3 linked regions of the Homo sapiens genome follow. The protein of the gene in region 2 purifies or fractionates together with the protein of the main gene of each other region. This does not show direct contact. Each region holds a gene or a part of one and is shown on either strand. Other genes may lie near its edges.

Region 1 (7,024 bases), on a different chromosome or scaffold from region 2:
TTTTTTTTTCCGGACACTTGCAGGATTTTCTATTTACTCTGAAACTTCACAGTGCTATGCCTTGATGTGGATCTTTTTCATTCATTACACTTGACACTCTGCTGTGCCTTTCAATCTAAAGATTGAAGTTCTGGAATAGCCACTATATTAGTCCATTTTCACACTCTATAAATAACTGCCCAAGACTGGGTAATTTATAAAGGAAAGTGTTTAATTGACTGAAGAGTTCAGCATGGCCAGGGAGGCCTCAAGAAACTTACAATCATGGGGGAACGCAAAGGGGAAGCAAAGCACCTTCTTCACAAGGCTTCAGGAGAAAGAGTGAGGAGTTAAAGGGGCAGAGCCCTTTATAAAACCATCAGATCTTGTGAGAACTCACCCACTATCAGGAGAACATCGTAGGGGAAACCACCCCCATGATCCAATCACCTCCCACCAGGTCTCTCCCTAGACACATGGGGATTATGGGGATTACAATTCGAGATGAAATTTGGGTGAGGACACAGACAAACCATACCAGCCATTTATGTTATTTCTAATAACCCACTGCCCCCATTTCTTTTTTAACTTTTTTCACTTTCTAAAACTGTTAGTCTGGTTTTGACCCCTGTATTTATCTTCTGTGGCTTTCATCTTTTCTCTTTGTCTCTTTCAGTTCTACTTTCAGGAATATTTTCTCACCTACATCTTCCAACACTATTAATTACTTTTGAATTTTAAATATTTTTAATTTTAAAAAGCCCTATTGTTTTAATAGTTTCACTTCCAATTGTTTTATGAATGCGATTTCTCCAGATATCTTTCAAACTAATTTTTTTATTCACTAGATAGCACTGTCTTATATTTTAAAGATTCTGAAAAACACAATTTTTAACGCTTATGTAGTCCGCCATCAAAACATCAATGTACTGAAGATTTTAAGCAGCATGAGGCACCATCACGTTTTTGTTTCTTCCCCCTCATTTCCCCGCCCCTACCAGATCTGTTTTTGATGTTTAGCCTAGAAGTAGCAAGAAGGATGAACTGAAGCAGATTAGAGATCGAGCTGGTAATCCAGATGAGAAATAATGAAAGTCTTCTCTAGGGTAATAGTGGTGAGGTAAAGGCAAAAGGATAGCTGACAGACGTTAGGAGGTGAAATGGCACAGGACTTGGTGAAAAACTGGTTAGGAGAAGAGGAAAGAGAAAAGCCCAGGTTATCCTCAGATTTATGGTTTGGACAACAGGAAGAATAGCAATTTCTCCAAGTCGAGTCCTATTATAAATATTTTCATTTTTGTATTTCACTTTGAGTCTCAATTTACCAAGATAACTTCCTTTCAATCAGCAAAACACCTGTTTACTACTTACTAACAATATTAAAGATGCAAATATTTACGAAACATATTTTTCTCACTTTACATAGATGCCTATCATTTCATTTGTAAAAAAGGTTAATTCTATTTACTCATTAAAATACTTACATTTAAATACTCCAGCATAATACATTAGGTGTATTAAACATATAGATGCTCCTCAGATGAAGAATATAGTCTAATCTGGTTTTATACACAATAAAGACAATTTAAAATGTAAAAAACTGGGCTTAAAAAATGCAGCCAACCACCTGTTTTATTAAGTTTTACCAAGTATTTCCTTCTAAAAAGTCCTTATCGGAGCTATTTCTTTAAAGCCAACATTTACTACATTAACAGATGGGTTCTTTAAATAAGAAATTTTACTTTCAACTCACTGATTTTATACTTAGAGGCTTTAAAATTTTTTAGAATATGTGAAGACCGGAATTAAACCATTCTCACCATATTTTTCCAGGACTGTTTGCTAACTGGCTTGTTTTTACATAAAGCTTTAAACATGTCTACCATGGGTAGTAAACAAGAAGGACTATTTGAAACTATAAAACCTACCAAACAAAGTGCCAAATGCATTATCACTGCTTTTTCCTTCTTTTATAAGAATCATTACTATGAACTCGTACTCGTTGGTGCACAGAGGATGCTATTTTCATACTCTCTTTCTTTGTAAAGGTCTTCTCTATAGCTCCAGGTTTCCAAAGTAACAACTGTGCATCTTCTCCTCCAGTCAACAAAGAATCATCTTGCACATTCCAACAGAAAGAACGGACTGTAGCAGCATGCCCTCCCTGAAGGCTAGTCACATGGGTCAGTCCTGACATGCTGCAGTTCATCAAATGAATCCTTCCTTTGTTTGTTCCTCCAATAACATGCAATGTGTCTGTCTTTTCATGATATAGGCCACCAATCAAATAGTCCAAAGCATCTTCTTTCATGTTAACTACTTCTCTGACATCCTGGATGTTCAAACGTGTAACTGGTTCATCAGTGTCCAGATGATTAAGATCCCACCAATAAAATCCTTCATCATGTGTCATGCAGTAAATCTGTTTATAACCTTTCCCAGACCAACCAATACAGCTTACTGATGAAATTGAGTTACAGGTTGTAACCAGTGCATCCTCCTCATTATCAATATTAATATCAAATACATTTACCAGGCCATCAGATGAACCTGAGACTACCATGTTGGGATTGCTGGGATGGAAACGTACTTGAGTGACATCATCACTATGTGTCTCTGAATATGCACCAAGTGAGTCTTTAGTTGTAGATAAATTCTGAGAATTCATCCTTGCATCCCAAAACACCAACAATGCATCATCATCAACTTTTTCTGTACCAGCACAAATAATATGATCATTACAATTAATATCAAAACTGATAAAAATATTGGAAGGGTAACCCTTGAAGAGCTGAACAGGTTTTTCTCTGGCTACTCGAGCATCCCAGCATTTCACAGTGCCATCAGTACATGCTGAATATACACTGTCACAGGAATTTGCAAATCTGACTCCATTAAGAAGTCCAGGATATCCACTAAATTCTCGTAGTACATTTAACCTTTCTTTATCATATATTCTGATTGATCCATTAGAACATAAAACAGCAACCAAGTTTTCCTTTCCTGCTTGGACAGTCTTTGATGTGTCTATACCAAGAAGGTAAGTGGGCTCTTTGGTTCCTAAGGAACATTTAACAATGTGCAGATTAGCAAATTGTTCCTCAATCTTTTCCATGTCAACAGCAGCATCCAAGGGTAGTAAAACTCTGTAAAAAATAATAATAATAAAAATAAAAATTAATGCTTAACAAGGGAGACACATAAAAAAATTTAACTTGAAGTTTCTCTAAAATTGCAATTAAATCAAGAACATTTTCCTCTGAGGGCTGGCATGAATCAATCAATCAACAGAAATGTATTCTAATACTATAATCATTTCCTTCCTATGATGTAACTAAAACTCAGTTGCCTTCTAATTCAATCACTCTTTAATACTGAATTCACTACCAGGAGTGGTGGCTCACACCTGTAATCTCAGCACTTTGGGAGGCTGAGGTAGGAGGACTGCTTGAGGCCAGGCATTAGAGACCAGCCTGAGCAACATGGGGAGACCCCCCCGCCGTCTCTTCAAAAAATAAATTAGCAGGGCATGGTGGCCTATGCCTGTAGTCCTAGCTACTCAGGAGGCTGAGGTAGGAGGACTGCTTGAGACCAGAAGTTGAGACTACAGTGATCCATGATCATGTCACTGTCATACAGCCTGGGGAATAAAGTGAGATCCTGCCTCAAAAAAGAAAAAAAAAATGCTGAATTTACTATATATATTTTATGCTAGTAAGAGAATAAAAAACATGTACATACGCCACCCAGTAGTTCCTTTTAGCTCAAACCCAATTACTGGTTCTACTCAAGTCATCTTCAGGATTGGCAAGGATCTCCACTTTGGAATAATCTTCTCCTGGCCCCAGCTGCCTTACACAACTTTAGAATTTAAACATAGATATGTAGGCAAAAAAAAAAAAAAAAAAAAAAAAAAAAAAAAAAAAAGGTTTCCCAAAAATATTCATGCCTTAATCCCTGGAATCTGTGAATATGTTAGGTTACAAAGGAAAACTGAAGTTGTACATGGAATTAAGGTTGCTTATCAGCCTAATATAAGGCTAACCTTAAAATAGGGAGATTATCCTAGATTATCTGTTATCACCGTGGCCCAATATGGTAACAACTGTCTTCAAAAGTGGAAGAGGGAGGCAGAAGAGTCAGAGGAAGAGGTTCCCATAGAAGAAAGGCAAAGACACAGAGAGATACAATGTTGCTGGTTTTGAAGACAGAGGCTGAGAGTGGCCTCTAGAAACTAAAAAGCAAGAAAAGATTGTCCTCTAAGCCTCCAAATGGAAATGCAGCCCTGTTGACATCTTAATTTTAGCCCAGTGACATCCATTTTGGACTTCAGACCTCCAGAACCGTTAAGATAATAAACTTAATGTTATTTCAAACAACTAAGTTTGCAGTAATTTGTTATAGCAGCAATAGGAAACGAATACAACAGAGGTTCCCAGTATAGAATCCTGGAGAAGTCCTTCTAAGGCAGTAGCAGCTTGTGATAGTAGAACTGGGATTTGAACCTAGGCATTCTGGCTTCAGGCTTCACGGACTGTGCTCTAAACCACCATACTAGATTGCCTCTCCAGGGTGGGCTGTATGTAGGACAAGTTCAAGGCCAGAAAAACATGCATGCCTAGTAACACTATAATAAATTCTTGACACTAGAGCAGAGTACGAGTCTGAGGTGGAGGGAGTCATGGCAGGACAAGCGTTTAAGTTTCTTCCACTCTTTGACCGAGTATTGGTTGAAAGGAGTGCTGTTGAAACTGTAACCAAAGGAGGCATTATGCTTCCAGAAAAATCTCAAGGAAAAGTATTGCAAGCAACAGTAGTCGCTGTTGGATCGGGTTCTAAAGGAAAGGGTGGAGAGATTCAACCAGTTCGTGTGAAAGTTGGAGATAAAGTTCTTCTCCCATAACATGGAGGCACCAAAGTAGTTCTAGATGACAAGGATTATTTCCTATTTAGAGATGGTGACGTTCTTGGAAAGTACGTAAACTGAAATAAGTCACTATTGAAATGGCATCAACATGAAGCTGCCCATTCCACCGAAGTTCTGAAATCTTTCATCATGTAAATAATTTCCATATTTCTCTTTTATAATAAACTAAATAACTAATGAAAAAAATAAAATAAATTCTTCTATTGTGCTTTCTCATCAGTGAATATTCTTTCTAGCCTGTCTAACAAATTCATTTTCATTCTTAAGATGAAATGTTTTTTCTGTTGCTTTAGTGATATCTTCTTAAGCATCTGTCTTTTCATCTTTAAAAGGGGAAATGAGTACTAACTCAAGAACTGTTAGGAGGATTAACTAATGCATGCCATGTGTTCTGCACAATGTATGGCATATCATAGTACCTACACAATAGATGTAATAGGTCAGGCATGGTGGCTCATGCCTGTAATCCCAACACTTCTGGAGGCCGAGGCAGCGATCACTGAGGTCAGGAGTTCGAGACCAGTCTGGTCAACATGGTAAAACCCCGTCTCTACTAAAAATACAAAAATTAGTTTGGTGTTGTGGTGCACACCTGTAATCCAGCTACTCGGGAGGCTGAGGCAGGAGAACTGCTTGAGGTAGAGGTTGCAATGAGCCAAGGTCTTGCCACTGCACTCCAGCCTGAACAACAGAGTGAGATTCCTACTCAAAAAAAAAAAAAAAAAAAAAAAAAGATGGCTGGACATGGTAGCTCACGCCTGTAATCCCAGCACTTTGGGAGGCCAAGGCGGGCAGATCACCTGAGGTCGGGAGATTGAGACCAGTCTGACCGACATGGAAAAACCCCGTCTCTATTAAAAATACAAAATTAGCCAGGCGTGGTGGCACATGCCTGTAATCCCAGCTACTCGGGAGGCTGAGGCAGGAGAATCGCTTGAACCCAGGAGGAGGAGGTTGCGGTGAGCCGAGATCGCGCCGTTGCACTCCATCCTGGGCAACAAGAGTGAAACTCCATCTCAAAAAAAAAAAAAAAGATGTAATATAAAAATTACCAGTATCACCATATAAGGGAGAATTTGGATCTATCAGAGAGCTCCAAATAGCACAATTACATCAAACAGCAAAAAATATTAGTAAGTTGGATTTGGGTTTTTTAAAATTTATTTTATTTTTTTGTATTTTTAGTGGAGATGGGGTTTCACCGTGTTAGCCAGGATGGTCTCGACCTCCTGACCTCGTGATCCGCCTGCCTCGGCCTCCCAAAGTGCTGGGATTACAGGCGTGAGCCACCACGCCCAGCCTGGATTTGGGTTTAAAATAGAAATAAGCATTCCCTCCAACTTTTAATTTTCAACATTTATTTTTACTTATTTTTCCTTTGGAGATGGCATCACAGCTCATTAATTTTCAACATTTATAAGTGCGCACACACAAAAAGTTCTAATGCACACACACAGTTCACCTTCTAGGTTCACTGTTAACTTCTTGCCACATTTGCTTTCTCTCTCTACACACACACACACACACACACCCCACTGCTTTTTAAAAATGAACCTTTTGATGAGAGTTAGCTGCAGACAAAGTATCACTCCATTCCTAAATACTTCACTATAACAGCATCTCTCCAACCTTCTGTTTTTCATGTCATGGAATTTTTTGAATATCCTATTCTTCAACAACTTTCATCCAAAGAGTTCAGGATCTATTAATTGTCCTTGCCTAAATCAATGATTATGCTAGAATCTGTAAAACAGTCCTTTTCTATCATTCTTTCTACCTTAGCAGGCATTCTTCTATAAACAAGAGCTTTTTTCCTTTCTCTGCTTCTTTGACTAGGAAATCACAATTCTTAAAAACTGTGTATCATAATCTATCGCTTTGTTGCTTTTTGATGCTCAAAGTGTCTGGACTTGGCCATTAAGACCCTTTAAGCCAGCTTCTGAAGCCTTCTGATAGGACCCCATCAGTCTGTAAGCCCCACATGAGAAACTCCGTGGAAGCATTAGGTAGCTCTAAAAATGGTGTTCTTCCTTCAACTTAAGTATTCAGACATGAAATGACCATTTTCCAGTAACGCTGGGGTAGTCACCTCCACAGCTGCTGAGGTAGCTAGCACAG
Region 2 (7,550 bases):
AGAATTTTGTAGGTGGTAGATACTGTACTAAGTACAAATTTATCTTTTCTTTTTGAGACAGAGTGTCCTTCTGTCGCCCAGGCTGGAGTGCAGTGGCACTATCTTGGCTCACTGCAACCTCTGCCTCCCTGGTGATTCTCCTGTCTCAGCCTCCCAAGTAGCTGGGATTACAGGTGTCTGCCACCACACCCAGCTAATTGTGGTATTTTTAGTAAAGATGGGGTTTCACCATGTTGGCCAGGCTGGTCTCAAACTCCTGACCTCAAGTGATCCACCTGCCTTAGCCTCCCAAAGTATTGCAAATGTATCATTTAATTTAATTCTCACAGAAATATTATGAGGCAAGCACTATCTTTTGTCATTCATCACATAAGCAAACTTGGGCTGAGAAGTTTAAGTAACTTGCCACAGGTCACAAAGCCTAGTTGATGTATTCTTAACCACAACTTCACATTTATCACATATATTCCTCAATGTAAAATAGAATAAAGCAATCTTTTCGCAAATGAAATTACAAAAGACTGATTGCCCTCTTCCTCTATTAGCGTGTTCCCTTTACTTATTTTCCGTGTCTTTTTTCACTTTTTGGCCTCCAAATAACTAGAATATGTTACTGTGTCAGCGGCAGTATGGATTATCTCCCATTCTTCATTGAAGGCCACTGTTTGCCCTTGACTTTACTAAACTTATCAACAAGAGATTTCACAATTTCAAGGATACGGTCTTACAAGGGTGTATTTTAAAGCCCCCTCAAGAGTGTTTAGTGACAAGGATTAGCTGTCAAAGAAATGATCAGACTGAGGGGGAATGTGGCATGATATTCAGTGGGATATATGTAACAGGCAGTTTCTATGAAAGTTTGGTCCCTTGTCCAAAATATTTGAGAATAGCAGTTTTAAGTAAACCCACCAGTAAAGTGCTACCATGTCTGCTGATGCCAAATGGAATGGACCTAAACCTGCTGAGTTATACGATACTGGAATTCTCTTCATCACTGCTGTCCCTCTGGATAACGTGAAAAATGGCTGTGGAGGTTTAGATTTAGAACCAGTTATTCCAAGTTACAGAGTCATACAAACTGGCAAACAGTATAGAAAATATATGATGATCTTACATTTTTTCAGGTCCGCTTCTGCTACACTGATGTTGATATATGCAAAAACTTTCTGTGGGTTTCCTAAAAAACAAACAAACAAACAAACAAAACAATTTATTTAAATTCTTATCCAGAGAGCAATGTAAAAACGGTTGTTTCTAAATTAAAAAAAAAAATAGCTCTTGAAAACTTATTATTTCAAAGATAAACCTTGTTTTTTATTGGCTATAAAAATAAGCATAATTATCAAAATATTCCAAAAAAAAAAAGAAGAAAATGTCCAGTAGTCAGATAAGGAAACATTTTGATTGTATGCTAGTGATAGTCTACTTAACGGGACACTTAATCCATGTTAGAAAATTCTAGTTCTCAAAACTGGAAGTTAATATGTTTCTGAAATCAGATGTTTTAGAATTTGGAATTTTTTCTTATTTCAGAAACAAATTCTGGTCAAGTTCCACATCACACATTATACCTCCACAACATCACTTAAAACTTTTGGTGTTCAGAGCTAACATTTATCTTGGGGTTGTTTTATTTTCTAGCACTTAACCTGAGTTATGTCTGCCTATAACTGCCCAGTGAAGGACCATAAATTACCTTGGTCATCTTTCCGTGTGATGATCTCCACATCCGAAACTTCTCCAAATCTGCTGAACTGATTTTGTAGGTCTGCCTCAGAAATGTCCTGGCTAAGGCCACCCACATAAAGGCGCTTCGTTTCTCTGTTCACTTTCATGAAGGCTGGGCATATACTTGGGTGTGTTTCAGTGGGAAAAGTAATTTTCTGTATACAGAGAAGAGTTCTTTCCCTTAGTTCTTCTAAAATCTAACAAAACAACTACTTCCTCTGAACCTTCTGTATCAAATCCGTCTCCTGGATCTGTATTTCACTTCCTATTGTATTACTTCCAAATTTTAGTCTTCGAGGTTTTGCCCAAGCCCTACATCCACATCTTTCATGAATGCACTTTGGAACAGCAACCCCATACCCATATAGACACAGGTACAGACAGAGTTTTTTTCCTCCAAATGGCCATAATATTACACTCTATCCCTCTTAATTTTATGTATTCATGTTTTTAGATGTTTTTCCTTGACTCACTCATACATTCATTTACTGTCTTTAACAAAGTCTGACAGAAACAGGATGTAACGCACTAAAAGATAAAAAGAGCTAGCCTACCTCTTCCTAATTGTCTCCACCCCCAACCTACCCACCCCAGCCTTCTTCCTCCTAGAAGACCCAAAGAAGTGAATAGAGAGGCTAGGAGCTCCTTATAGTCACAAAAGAATAAAACAAATGGCACAATATTATGTCACAATAAAAGTGCTGCAAAGTGGGGTTCAGACACAAAGATCAAGGGATATAGCGAATACAGACTTGTGTTTTTGCTATGTGCCTGCATTGTACAAAGTAGTTTGCATGTTTCCCATTTTTCAGGAGAGCAGAAGAGGTTAAGTCACTTCCTCAATGCCATACCGAAAATTAGTGAATCCAGGATTATAATGCAGGTCTACCTTCAGAACTTGGAATTCTTAACACTATACTATGAAGGTTGCTGTATCACAGGGGACTCAGGAAAACTTTTCCAGAGGTACTAGGGCCCATCATAGTATCTCTCATTTCGTTTAGCACCCGGCAGGCGCTCAGCTCTCGCCCTTCCCTTCCCCAAGAGCTGACAGACTCTTTCCAGAAGAGACTCCCAACCAGCGTCCACCACATGGCGTGTATTCTGGGCAGAACTTCGGCCTACCTCTTCCCGATAGTCTCCGCCCCCAGCCTACCCACGGCAGCCTTCTTTCTCTGAGAAGACCCAAAGAAGTGAAGAGAGACTAGGAAACGGCCCTGTGACTTCTCATGCCCGAAACCCACTCCTCACCACGTCGTTCACCTAAAGCCAGCGCCGCTGCAGCCCCTAACTTCTGGTCACGTGTCCCAACGGAGCATCCTCTCTTCCTTCCTACTCGATTTCCAACCCAGCCTCCTAAGGTTCCGTTACCACAATTCAGTTCCCAAGAGCTTTTAATTTCCTTTTCCGTCCTCCCACCTTCCCTGACGCCTCCGTCACCTCCCCCTCAACGACTGCAAAAGAGCCTAAACCAAAATCCCCTAGTTTCTATTGAACACTATCGCTGTGTGTACCAATTCCTGGACTAGGTCGGCGTAAGAGAGGAAGTAGGTGAAAAAAATAAAGAGGCGCTCCCCTCCACGTGATCCCAGCCCTGCCTCTTTAGTGAGGCACGCGGCCGGGCGGCTCCAAGGCTGCCGGCTAGGGTGAGCAGCGGAGCGCTTGGGCTTGGAGTAGCAAAGAACGCGCTCTCCAGAGAAAGTATAGCCACTGCTTAGACAGCCAGGGAAACGTGTGCGGGGAAGTGGAGGACTCAGGCTCTCGTGCGAGAGCGGAGTTGGACGTGCAGGGCCGCTGGGGTCACGCGGAGCTCTCCCGCCTCCCCTCCGCGTGAGCTCTGGGATGGTCCGCGCCGGGAGCGCGCGCGAGGCTTGAAGCGCGGGTGAAGCGCGCAGGTCGGAGTGACAGCTGCGCTGCCGGCCCGGCTGCGGTCAGCAACGCGCCATGGACGCAGAGCTGGCAGAGGTGCGCGCCTTGCAAGCTGAGATCGCGGCCCTGCGGCGAGCGTGTGAGGACCCACCGGCGCCCTGGGAAGAGAAGTCCCGAGTCCAGTACGTGACCACCCCAAGTCCCCCAGGGCCCGCTGGCCAGGGTTCCCGGGCCAGGCGGGTGAATCTCCACAGACATCCTCGGTCTCCTACTCCCAGCCCTAGAAAGTGGGCATGAACTGGCATTGATCCTGTCATGACGATGGCCTAGAGTTGGGAGCAGCGCGTACGGCGCCCAGCTGTAAACGCATTGCAGGGTATTAACTCGTTTAATCGCAGTCGTCTGTGTGGATGACTGACAAGGAGGAAGTCTTGACTATATCCCTAGCTAGATAATTCCGCCTCCAGTATGCAGAAGTATCTCTAGTTGGGATTTAATAACTCCGTTTGGTTTCATGGCATTTGTTTTGGTAGGTCAGCTAACCATCTCAACTGATAATGACTTTGTGTTTACGATGACATAAAAATTCCTTTGAAAAATAACTTCGGTAAAAAACTAAGTTGATAAAAGAAAAGTAGTTAATATAGACTGCAGGAGAATTTGACATTCCTCTGAGGTAGGTGCTACTGTTAGCCCTGTTTTATAGTTGAAGAAACTGAGGCTCAGAGAAGTTAGGTAGCTTGTCCAAGGTTCCAGAGAAAGGAATTGTCAGAGATGGATTGGGACCCAAAAATTTTACTCCAAAGTCTGGGCACTTTTGGTTTATTGAAGGAGAGGGAGAGAAAAGCTCTGCAACCGTAATTATGTATTATCATCTCAAACATAGAAGCCTCTCGAAAACATAAACTGTCTTCAATTTTTGAGTCAAGAGTAATTTGACATAGGTGCAGAAAGAATGGGATTTTTCCTGAGCTAACTGGAGAAGAATTGGTAGAAAATGGGAAGGAGGAGATCTACAGAAAATGTCTGCGTGCGGTCATGAAAGTAGAGGAAGCTGTGACTGGTTAAAGGGAGAGGAAAAAGGTGTGCTCCTCCACAAATGAGAGTAAATGTATTAAAGACCCTTGCTATTTGAGGTGTGCTCCACAGATGGGACGCTTTAGCATTACCTGGCGGTTTGTTAGAGCGACATCCTGACCTACTGAATCAGAATCTGCATTTTAAAAAAATACACTGCCCTAACAGAGGATTTGTGTGCACACTTGGAAGTTTAAGAACCAGGGAAAAATAGTTTCTTTACTGGCCACAAGATTTCATTAGTCCCCATAGTAGTGTCAACTGAAAAATCATGAGATCTGCAAATTTAGAGAGACTATTTCTTAAAAAGGGTTACAGTCTGCAAAGTGGCCATCCTGACAGGCTAGGAAGCATAGTCTCAGGCAAAGCAGAAAGGCCCACACTTTGGAGGAGGAGGGGTTGGGGCAGGGATTTATGCTGTATGAGTGGGCTAGGTATACATATTCAACAGGTTATAGGAGGGGCTATGAATATTCACGAAGGGAGATGTGCTCACCTGTACTGAATAAAAATGCATATTACATGCACTCCATATTCATTTTGGGAAGCTGACTTAATATTTAAATGCATTACAATTAGGCCCTGTACGTCAAAAGTTGAAGGAGGGAAGCAAAGGTACTTAAGTACACAGGCCTTGTAAACCTGTTAGAACAAGTCCATGGTTGGTGATCTTATCAAAAGAAAATTTTTGAAATCATTCTCTTGTCCTATCAAAGCCTGTGGAACAGGGGAATCAGTTAGCATCTGGTGGTGGATGAACTGCAATTATTTCAATATTGCTTATCTGGAGGCCAGTGCTAGTGAAAAAAATATTGTGGCAGTTAGAACATAGTTCATTCTTTTAAAGGTAGGGGGTATGTGACTTAACCCTTGCCTGGCATGGCCTTAGGTCTTGTTTATAATTTGGTATCTTATTGCCACAGAGTCCGTTCTGCAACTCTTACGATCTCTATTTTAACATTAATGCTGGTCAGTTGTTGTGTCTACATCCCAAATAGGAAGGGGTATAACGAGGTGTGTCTGACCTCCCATCCTGTCATGGTTAAGAACTGAGTTTTTAAGGTTTCTTTGGGGTCCCCTTGACCAAGAGGGAGTCGGTTCAGGTGATTGTGGGGGTGGGGTAGGATTTTATTTTTAGTTCTTAGTAGATTATTTATATAATCTGGGACTTCTCAGTGGTTAAATTGGAAAGTCAGAAGAGTCCAGATTGTGGGAGACATTAAATGTCAGTCCAGGGTGTTTGGATTTAACCGTGAGGTTTCTTTTCACTATAGTGGAGGAGGAGGATTGGAACCTATGTACCAAGCTATTTTTTTAAGTGATTATAAGTGGTTGGATGGATTGGAGGTAGGAAAATTGGAGCTAAATTATTCAGCTATATCCATATGTCCACACTGTGGAGCCAAATTGCCTGCTTTCAAATCCTGTCTCTGCTATTGGCTGAGTGATCTTGGTTAAGTGAGCTCCCCCTTTCTGTGCTTCAGTTTCCTCCGTGGTAAAATTATACCCAAGTTTTTGGGTTGCTGTGAGGACTAATTGAGTTAATATATGTAGTTCATTTAGAAGAGTACTTGCCTCATAATAGTAACTAACACTCATTAGTAGACCATTGACCTTTAAACTCGTGTACAGATTGATTTTAAAGGAAAAAAAATTCTTGCAAGCTCCTAATTCTGACAAAAAATTTTTATGTTATGAGGACAAACTTACAAATAATAAAACCACAAAGTGAATAAAATTCAAACAAATCCAAAATAGCTCAAACTAACATCATTAGTTGAAATACACAAATATTTTGCTCAAACTAAATAACTGCTATGAATAAGAATATGCAGATTTTCTTTTTGTGGCAAAATATACATAAGATTTACTATTTTAACCATTTTTGAGCGTTCAGCTCAATGGCATTAAACACATGCACATTGTTGTACAGCCATCACCACTGTCCATCTTCAGAACTTTTTCATCACCCCTAAACTGAAACACCATACCTATTAAACACGAACTCCCTACTAGCCACTCTGACAACTGCAGGTTCTTTTTTGAGTTCTGCATATCCAGCCTTTAATGATGACTTGGTTCTCTTACCACTTTGCTCTATCGGAAATACCTTGAAATTTTCCTTCATAGTTTGCTGTGACATTTGGTGTTCACTTGTCAGAAGCTCATTTATATTTATGGCTTTTTTTTTTTTTTTTTTTGAGACGGAGTTTCGCTCTTGTCGCCCAGGCTGGAGTGTGGTGGCGCAACCTCAGCTCACTGCAACCTCCGCCCCCTGGGTTCAAGGGAGTCTCCTGCCTCAGCCTCCCGAGTAACTGGGATTACAGGCACCCGCCACCATGCCCAGCTAATTTTTTGTATTTTTACTAGAGATGGGGTTTCGCCATGTTGGGCAGTCTGGTCTCGAACTCTTGACCTCAGGTGATCTGCCCACCTCGGCATCCCAAACTTCTGGGATTACGTGAGCCACCGTGCCCGGCCGCACATCATTTATATATGAAGATTGTCTCTGTTCTTTTTTCTTTTTCTTTTTCTTTTTTGTTTTGTTTTTTGAGAGAGGGTCTCACTCTGTTGCCCATGCTGAAGTGCAGTGGCATGATTATGACTCACTGCAACCTTCACCCACCTCCCATGCTCAAGCAATCGTCCTGCCTCAGCGACCCTCCACCAGCCAAGTAGTTGGGACTGAAGGCATGGCACCTGCCACTATGCCCAGATAATTTTGTGTGTGTGTGTGTGTGTGTATTTTTTGGTAGACATGGGGTTTTACCATGTTGGCCCGACTGGTCTTGAACTCCTGGGCTGCCTCAGGATTACAGGAGTGAGTCGCTGTGCCCAATCTGTTCTTTTTTCCTTGACTTCTATATTTAATGTAA
Region 3 (7,024 bases), on a different chromosome or scaffold from region 2:
CTGCTGCACTGCATCATGTTCAACATGAGGAGCCTGGACAGCAGCACGCCTCTGCCCATTGTCAGACGGACACAGTGCATGATGGAGAGGATGATGAGGGAGCTCGTGCAGCCCCTGCTGGCCCTTCTCCCGGACACCCCAGGCCCAGAGCCAGAGCTGTGGCTGCAGAAGGTCAGTGACTCTGTGCTCCTGCTCTCTTACACTTGGGCCCAGGTGGACGCTATGTTCAGTTTGAACTGTAGCCAGTATCACTCTATGTCTGGGCCCCTTATAGGTGTTGCTCTGGAGATCTCGAACCTCCCTTCGTTGCTCCCAGGTGTAAAAACACAGCATTGGAAGAAGATAGAGAAGTTTACAGCTCAGTTCAGCTCTCTTGGTACATATTGCTTAGAACAGCTGTACCTGCAGAAAATGAAAAGGACTTTAATGCAAACTAGTTTCCGGTCTGAAGGAGCCATCCAAAGTTTGAGGTGCGATGCTGCCTTTATTATTGGTTCCGGCAGAAAAAGCTTGAATCAGAGAACGACGGCTTCCTGGGATGGCCAAGTTGGGATGGTGAGTGGACTCACATACCCTGTAGCACACTGGCACTTGATTGTGTCAAATCTCACAATTTTAATATCCTATCTGTGTCCAGATGATGTGGGATACCTGGCCAGTGTCCTGCTGAGAACTTTACCCATGGGCAAAGCCCAGGAAGTCTCAATAGATGAAGAGGCATACATCACACTGGAAAAAATATCCAAAGCCTTCCTTCATAGCCCTCTCTTTCCAGAGATGCAGTCCCTTCATTCTGCTTTCTTAACGTGCGTAACCACAAGTTGCTCCAGCATTCTGTGTTCTGGTGCCCAGCGTGACTCAGGTCTTGTCAGTCAGCAGCTTCCCTGGCTTTTTGAAAAGGACCACATGGTTGTGGGTCATTGGGAAAACAGATTTGCAAAAGCTGGACCCGAAGGTATAGAACCTAGAGGAGAAATTGCCCAGAACTTACTGTCCCTGGTCAAGAGTGACTTCCCTATCCAGCTGGAGGGAGAGCAGTTGGAAAGCATCCTGGGGCTTTTGGAAGTGATTTCTGCCTTACAGCTGGACAGCCTCTTGCCACCCTATCATGTGCATTATTTTCTTGTGTTACTGTCCATGGCCGTCACCAAACTAGGATGCTCTTGCTCCTCCTCACTGGCTCTCAAGTTCTTGACGACTTGCTACCAACTTCTTGGTTACTTGCAAAAGGGGAAAAGTGCTCGCTCTGTGTTCAAGATCATGTATGGTAGTGATATTTTTGAGGTTGTACTGACCTCATTGTTCAGAGCTAGTAGTAGGTTCCTTATTGAGATGGATGATCCCGCTTGGCTGGAATTCCTCCAAGTGATAGGGACGTTCTTAGAGGAGCTAATGCAGATGCTCATCCAAATGAAGCTGAGCTTGGTGCTCAATTTTAGAAAAATCACCGCATTCCTCTCTAGTTCCAAACCATACACGGAGGCAGCTTCAAGCAAACAATTAGAAAATCAGAACCCCCAGGGCAGGCAGCTCCTTCTGGTGTCTTTAACCAGGTTGTGCCATGTCCTGGGACCTTTCCTCAAAGAGCAGAAGCTGGGCCAAGAGGCCCCAGCAGCACTGTCTGAGCTGCTGCAGCAGGTTGTGCTGCAGACAGGAGCTGTGCTGCAGCTCTGCTCAGTGCCGGGGGCCCGGGGCTGGCGCCTTCCCTCGGTCCTCATCTCATCCGTCAGCACGCTCTTGGAAGCCGACCTGGGTCAGCACTGCAGGGATGGAGGGGCCGACATTTCCCAAGGAAGCGACAGGACGCTGCTCTCCCATGTTGCCCTCTACCAGGGTGTTTACTCTCAGATACTGTTGGAGTTGCCAGCTCTCGCGGGACATGATCAGTCTTTTCAGGCAGCCTTGCAGTTTTTGACTCTGTTCTTTTTGGCCCCAGAACTGCATCCCAAAAAGGACTCCGTGTTTACCTCCATGTTTCATTCTGTGAGAAGAGTTCTTGCAGGTAAGATATTTTCTCTTGAGCTAATTCTGTGTTATAGAGGTCTGGTTTCCACTGCTCCCCTTTTTGGAACTGGGAATAAGTGAACACGTGATGTGTTCAAAAGGTACCACATGTGCGGCTGGGTGCGGTGGCTTACACCTGTAATCCCAGCACTTTGGGAGGCCGAGGCGGGCGGATCACAAGGCCAGGAGATCGAGACCATCCTGGCTAACACGGAGAAACCCCATCTCTAGTAAAAAATACAAATAATTAGCCGGGTGTGGTGGCAGGCGCCTGTAGTCCCAGCTACTCGGGAGGCTGAGGCAGGAGAATGGCGTGAACCCAGGAGGCAGAGCTTGCAGTGAGCCAAGATCGCGCCACTGCACTCTAGCTTGGGCGACAGAGCGAGAGTCTGTCTCAAAAAAAAAAAAAAGTACTACATGTGGACAGTGAGAAGACCTCCCTTCTAGGCCCAGCACCCACGACTTCATGCCCTCTATTTACATTCTAGGCGTACATAAGCAATTACTGCTACAACGGTTTCCTTGCTTTCTGTGCAAACAGCAGCCTCCTCCGTATGTTGCTCTGCACCTCAGTTGCTCACTGATTTTGGAGGTTGCTCTGTGTACGTTTATAGTTTTGAAATCTGCTCCTCTTCAGCTTTTTAGCCTTTAACTTGTCCTGGCTGCAATGAGATACATAGATACCTGCATCCTTAGTAGGTTCTTATGTATCAGACTTTCAGTGCCATAAATTGACTTTAAAAAGATATGAAAATCTGCCAACTTTAAAAAAGTACAAATCAGAGCCAGGCGTGGCAGCTCACGCCAGTAATCCCAGCACTTTGGGAGGCTGAGGGGGCAGATTGCTTGAGTCCAGGCAACATGGCAAAACCCCATCTCTACAAAAAATACAAAAATTGGCCAGGCATGGTGGCATGCGTCTGTAGTCCCAGCTACTCAGGAGGTTGAAGTGGGAGGATCACCTGAGCCCAGGGAGGTCGGTGCTGCAGTGAGTCTTGATCCTGCCATTGTACTCCAGCCTGGGTGACACAGTGAGATCCTGTCTCATAAAAAAATAAATTAAAAAAAGTACAAATCACTTAATTTCTTTTTTTTTTTTTTTTGAGATGGAGTCTCACTCTGTCTACCAGGATGGAGTGCAGTGGTGCAATCTCAGCTCACTGCAAGCTCCGCTTCCCGGGTTCATGCCATTCTCCTGCCTCAGCCTCCCAAGTAACTGGGACTACTGGCACCCGCCACCACGCCCGGCTAATTTTTTTGTATTTTTTAGTAAAGACAGGGTTTCACCATGTTAGCCAGGATGGTCTCGATATCCTGACCTCATTATCCGCCCACCTCAGCCTCCCAAAGTACTGGGATTACAGGCGTGAGCCACCATGTCCAGCCAAATCACTTAATTTCCAAAGAGCCTCTTACAGTTCCTTGAGGACAGGACTGTGCCTTCCTTAGTTCACCCCTGTCCCCCCACCATATTAGGGTGCTGCCAGGTGCAAGTGCTCACTGGACCAAGGCTAACCTTCAATGTCATCAAAGTGTTTTAGTCTGAAGGCAGCCTTCCAAGCAGCAAACTAGGACCTCGTACACAGCCTCGAAGCAAGAGAGCTCATGTCTTCCTGCACAGAGTCGACCTTTACAGCCCCCCTGGTGAAAGGTTAATGGGTTACTATGCAGCCGTTAAAAATATAATTATGAAAACTATTATGAAGACAAGGGCTAGAAATATCTAGAAAATATTAAGCAAAAAAAGTACAGTATGAAATGTTAAATATGCCACAATTACAGCTATATAAGATATACATGCGTGCAGACAAAGGCTAGAAACCCATCCAAAAATTAAAATAATTATTGTATTAACATGCATGTATTAACATGCATTGTATTATTGCATTAACATGTTGTGATTGTTGCTATTTTCTTATTTTGTACACTTTAATGTTGCATTTTAATAAGAATAAATCAAAATACTTTTCTATGATTTAATTAAATATGCCATAAGCAGGGGATAGATTATAATGTTTTTGGAGGCCCATTTAGAGTTTGTTGAGGTTTTCCTCTACAGTGAAGGATGATTAAGATTTGTTACCTTTATTAGGGTATACAAATAAAACACACTTTTACTCCTCCCAAACAAACAGTTAATGGAAGAGATTTCTTGTTTCAAGATGGCACACATCACAGTTGTGGGGGGTCTTTTCTTTTTTGTTTTGGTGGTAACGAAAGGGCTGGGGTCAGGTCAGTCTTTTGAGGTGAGGTCTGGAAGTCAGCCGAATCTGACCCTCGTTAATGTCACATTAACGTCTGTGTTAAGCACACCTTAACCTCTGTGTTTCTGGGTGGAGAAGCTGTGACGGGTGGGGCCACGGGCGTGCCTTTCGGTACGTGAGGGTTAAATGGGTTCTCGCAGAAAGTAAAGCCATCTGGTCTGCCTGTGCCAGTGCCAGAACTGAAGTGCCATGGGCCAAATCACGCTGCTGTTGTCTCCCTTTCAGTAACCTGTCTCTGGCTGGATTGTGGATTAACTGAAAGGCTTTGATATTACATTGTTCTGTCTTATTGTGTTAGGGTCTCTTTTAGCGAATGGTGTTCACCTTCTTAATGGGGGCTAAAATAGAGTCTTTTATTAAGCCTAATTACAGTGTTCTAAGTGACTGGCCCAAGAAATGGCAGCTGGTGGTCTGAAGCTCTGCCCTGTGCCCCTTAGCTAAAGAGAATATTGTGTCCTCCTTTTCCTCTTCAACCCTACTGAGTTGAGGCAATCTCTTTTTTTTTTTTTTTTTTTTTGAGACAGAGTCTCATTCTGTCACCTAGGCTGGAGTACAGTGGCCCGGTCTCGGCTCACTGCAACCTCCGCCTCCCGGCTTTGAGCGATTCCCATGCCTCGGCCTCCTGAGTAGCTTGGATTACAGGCATGCACCACCATGCCCGGCTAATTGTTGTATTTTTAGTAGAGATGGGGTTTTACCGTGTTGGCCAGGCTGGTCTCGAACTCCTGACCTTAAGTGGTCTGCCTGCCTCAGCCTCCGAAAGTGCTGGGATTACAGGCATAAGCCACCGTGCCTGGCCAAGTTGAGGCAGTCTTTAAGTCCTAAGTGTATGTCCCTGGACTGCTGGTACCTTATTTCCTCAGGGACAGAGCACCTCGGTCACAGTGTGGTCAGGGTTGGGCAAGGCCAGCCTGCCACACTGTGCCCTCAGCTCATGGGCCTGGGGTGTTGCTGTGTCCAGGCCTCTTCCACCTGAGCTGTTAGATACTGTCCAGGGAAGTGCCAGAGTTGTGAGTGCTCTGGAAGAAATGCCAAGTGAGGAGTGGCCCAAGGCTTTGGGCAGGGAGAGGGAGTGTGAAGAGGCGCCGTGCAGGTGCCCCAGCCATGGAGTTCTCCCTGTGTCCTTAAGGATGGCTCAGAGGTGGGCTTTTGTAAAGAATGCCTTCTGACAGCAGAACAGAGGACCTGAATTCAATTACAGAAATCAACACTTCTAAAAATGCTTCTTGGCTGGGAGTGGTGGCTGGCATCTGTAATCCTGCACTTAGGGAGGCTGAGCCAAGAGATCACTTGAGGCCAGGAGTTTGAGACCAACCTGGGTGAAAAAGCAAAACCCCATCTCTACAAAAAGCCGGTGTGGGTAGCATGCACCTGTGGTCCCAACTACTCCGAAGGCTGAGGCGAGAGGACCCCTTGAGCCCAAGAGGTCGAGGCTGCAGTGATCCATGATTGTGCCACTGCACTCCAGCCTGGGTGATGGAGTGAGACCCTGTCTCCAGAAACATAAAAAAAACCAATTAAAATGCTTGTATGTTTGAGGCTGTATCCTGCTCTGGAGATGAGTGAGGTGTTGATTTTGGCCTATGTAATTAAGTAAACAGACATTCGCACAAATCACAGGGTAAAGGTGGGGGAGACGCCATAAAGCGAACCAGAGCGATGGGACTCGGTGGAGAGGCCACATACAGGCCACGTGTGAGTGGCCCTTGAAGGGTAGCTAGGGCAGGTGGAAATGGGAGCCTTTCATGTGAGGGCACTATGTTGTGAGCTCTGTGGCCTTTTTTTGTTTGCCAGCCACAGGAGTTGGTGCTGTTATGCCCACTTCACTGATGAGGGAGTTGAGGTTCAGAGAGATCATGGGTCCAGGGTTTTACAGCTTGTGGGAGACTTGGACCTAGGTCTTTACCTCTCAAAAGTCCCCTTTCCCCCAGTGCTGTAAATAGTAAGCAAAGACAGGAAAGCAGGAAGGTATTCTGGCAATGTGGAATAGGCAGATGGGGCTGAAGCGCTGGCTGGAAAGATGACCTGGGGCCAGACGATAAAGGGCCTTGAGTGCCCTGGCTTTGGGCGTTATTGTGAAACCGTGGGCCCAAGGACACTGGGGATGATGGGGAACAGCTGGGTGACTTCCTGACAGTCATCCAGGCCTGAAAAGTGGAGCTCTCTTAGTCTTTCTGACTTTCCCATCTGTTTAAAATACCACCTACTCTTGCAGCCCTACCGATTTTATAAAGAAACACAAAGAAAATAGAGAAATAAAATACAGTTGACCCTTGAACAACATAGGGGTTAAGGCACCAACCCCCAGCACAGTAAAAAATTCCGTGTATATCCTTCTGATACAATTCTATTAAAAAAATCTTGTATTACTTTTGACTCTCTAGAAACTAAACTACTGATAGCCTACTGTTGACCAAAGCCTTGCTGAACATAAACAGTCGATTACCACGTATTTTGTGTATGTATTTATGTATTATATTCTTACAATCAAGTAAGCTAGAGAAAAGAAGATGTTATTAAGAAAATAACAAGGAAGGGAAAATGTATTTGCCATTCATTAAGTGAAGTAGGTTATCATCAAGGTCTTCATCCTCTTCATCCTCACACTGAGTAGGTTGAGGAGGAGGAAGAGGAGGGGTTGGTCTTGCAGTCTCAGGGGTGCTAGAGGCAGAAGAAAACCCATGTATAAGTGGATCCATGCAGTTCAAACATTGTTCAAGGGTCAACCGCACAAAGCAATAATCACTGTCTTCTGT

The links.
Region 1: the proteins of NOL8 (region 2) and WDR89 purify together in Homo sapiens (affinity purification with mass spectrometry; 2 studies listed by BioGRID and IntAct, with this or other methods). This does not show direct contact.
Region 3: the proteins of NOL8 (region 2) and URB2 purify together in Homo sapiens (affinity purification with mass spectrometry; 2 studies listed by BioGRID and IntAct, with this or other methods). This does not show direct contact.

The regions. Positions count from the first base shown.
Region 1 is NC_000014.9:63,596,849-63,603,872, forward strand, and holds the end of WDR89 (WD repeat-containing protein 89), read right to left. Parts: intron 5,460-7,024; exon of another isoform or gene 5,330-5,459; intron 5,087-5,329; exon of another isoform or gene 4,623-5,086; intron 3,126-4,622; coding exon of another isoform or gene 3,095-3,125; coding exon 1,931-3,094; 3' UTR 191-1,930; downstream 1-190.
Region 2 is NC_000009.12:92,322,327-92,329,876, forward strand, and holds the start of NOL8 (nucleolar protein 8), read right to left. Parts: upstream 3,025-7,550; 5' UTR 2,980-3,024; exon of another isoform or gene 2,854-2,979; intron 1,884-2,853; 5' UTR 1,836-1,883; coding exon 1,697-1,835; intron 1,178-1,696; coding exon 1,115-1,177; intron 1,026-1,114; exon of another isoform or gene 910-1,025; intron 1-909. Other genes in the region: CENPP (centromere protein P), read left to right, coding at 3,673-3,779. UniProt on the Homo sapiens protein: Plays an essential role in the survival of diffuse-type gastric cancer cells. Acts as a nucleolar anchoring protein for DDX47. May be involved in regulation of gene expression at the post-transcriptional level or in ribosome biogenesis in cancer cells.
Region 3 is NC_000001.11:229,636,246-229,643,269, forward strand, and holds part of URB2 (unhealthy ribosome biogenesis protein 2 homolog), read left to right. Parts: coding exon 1-2,002; intron 2,003-7,024. UniProt on the Homo sapiens protein: Essential for hematopietic stem cell development through the regulation of p53/TP53 pathway.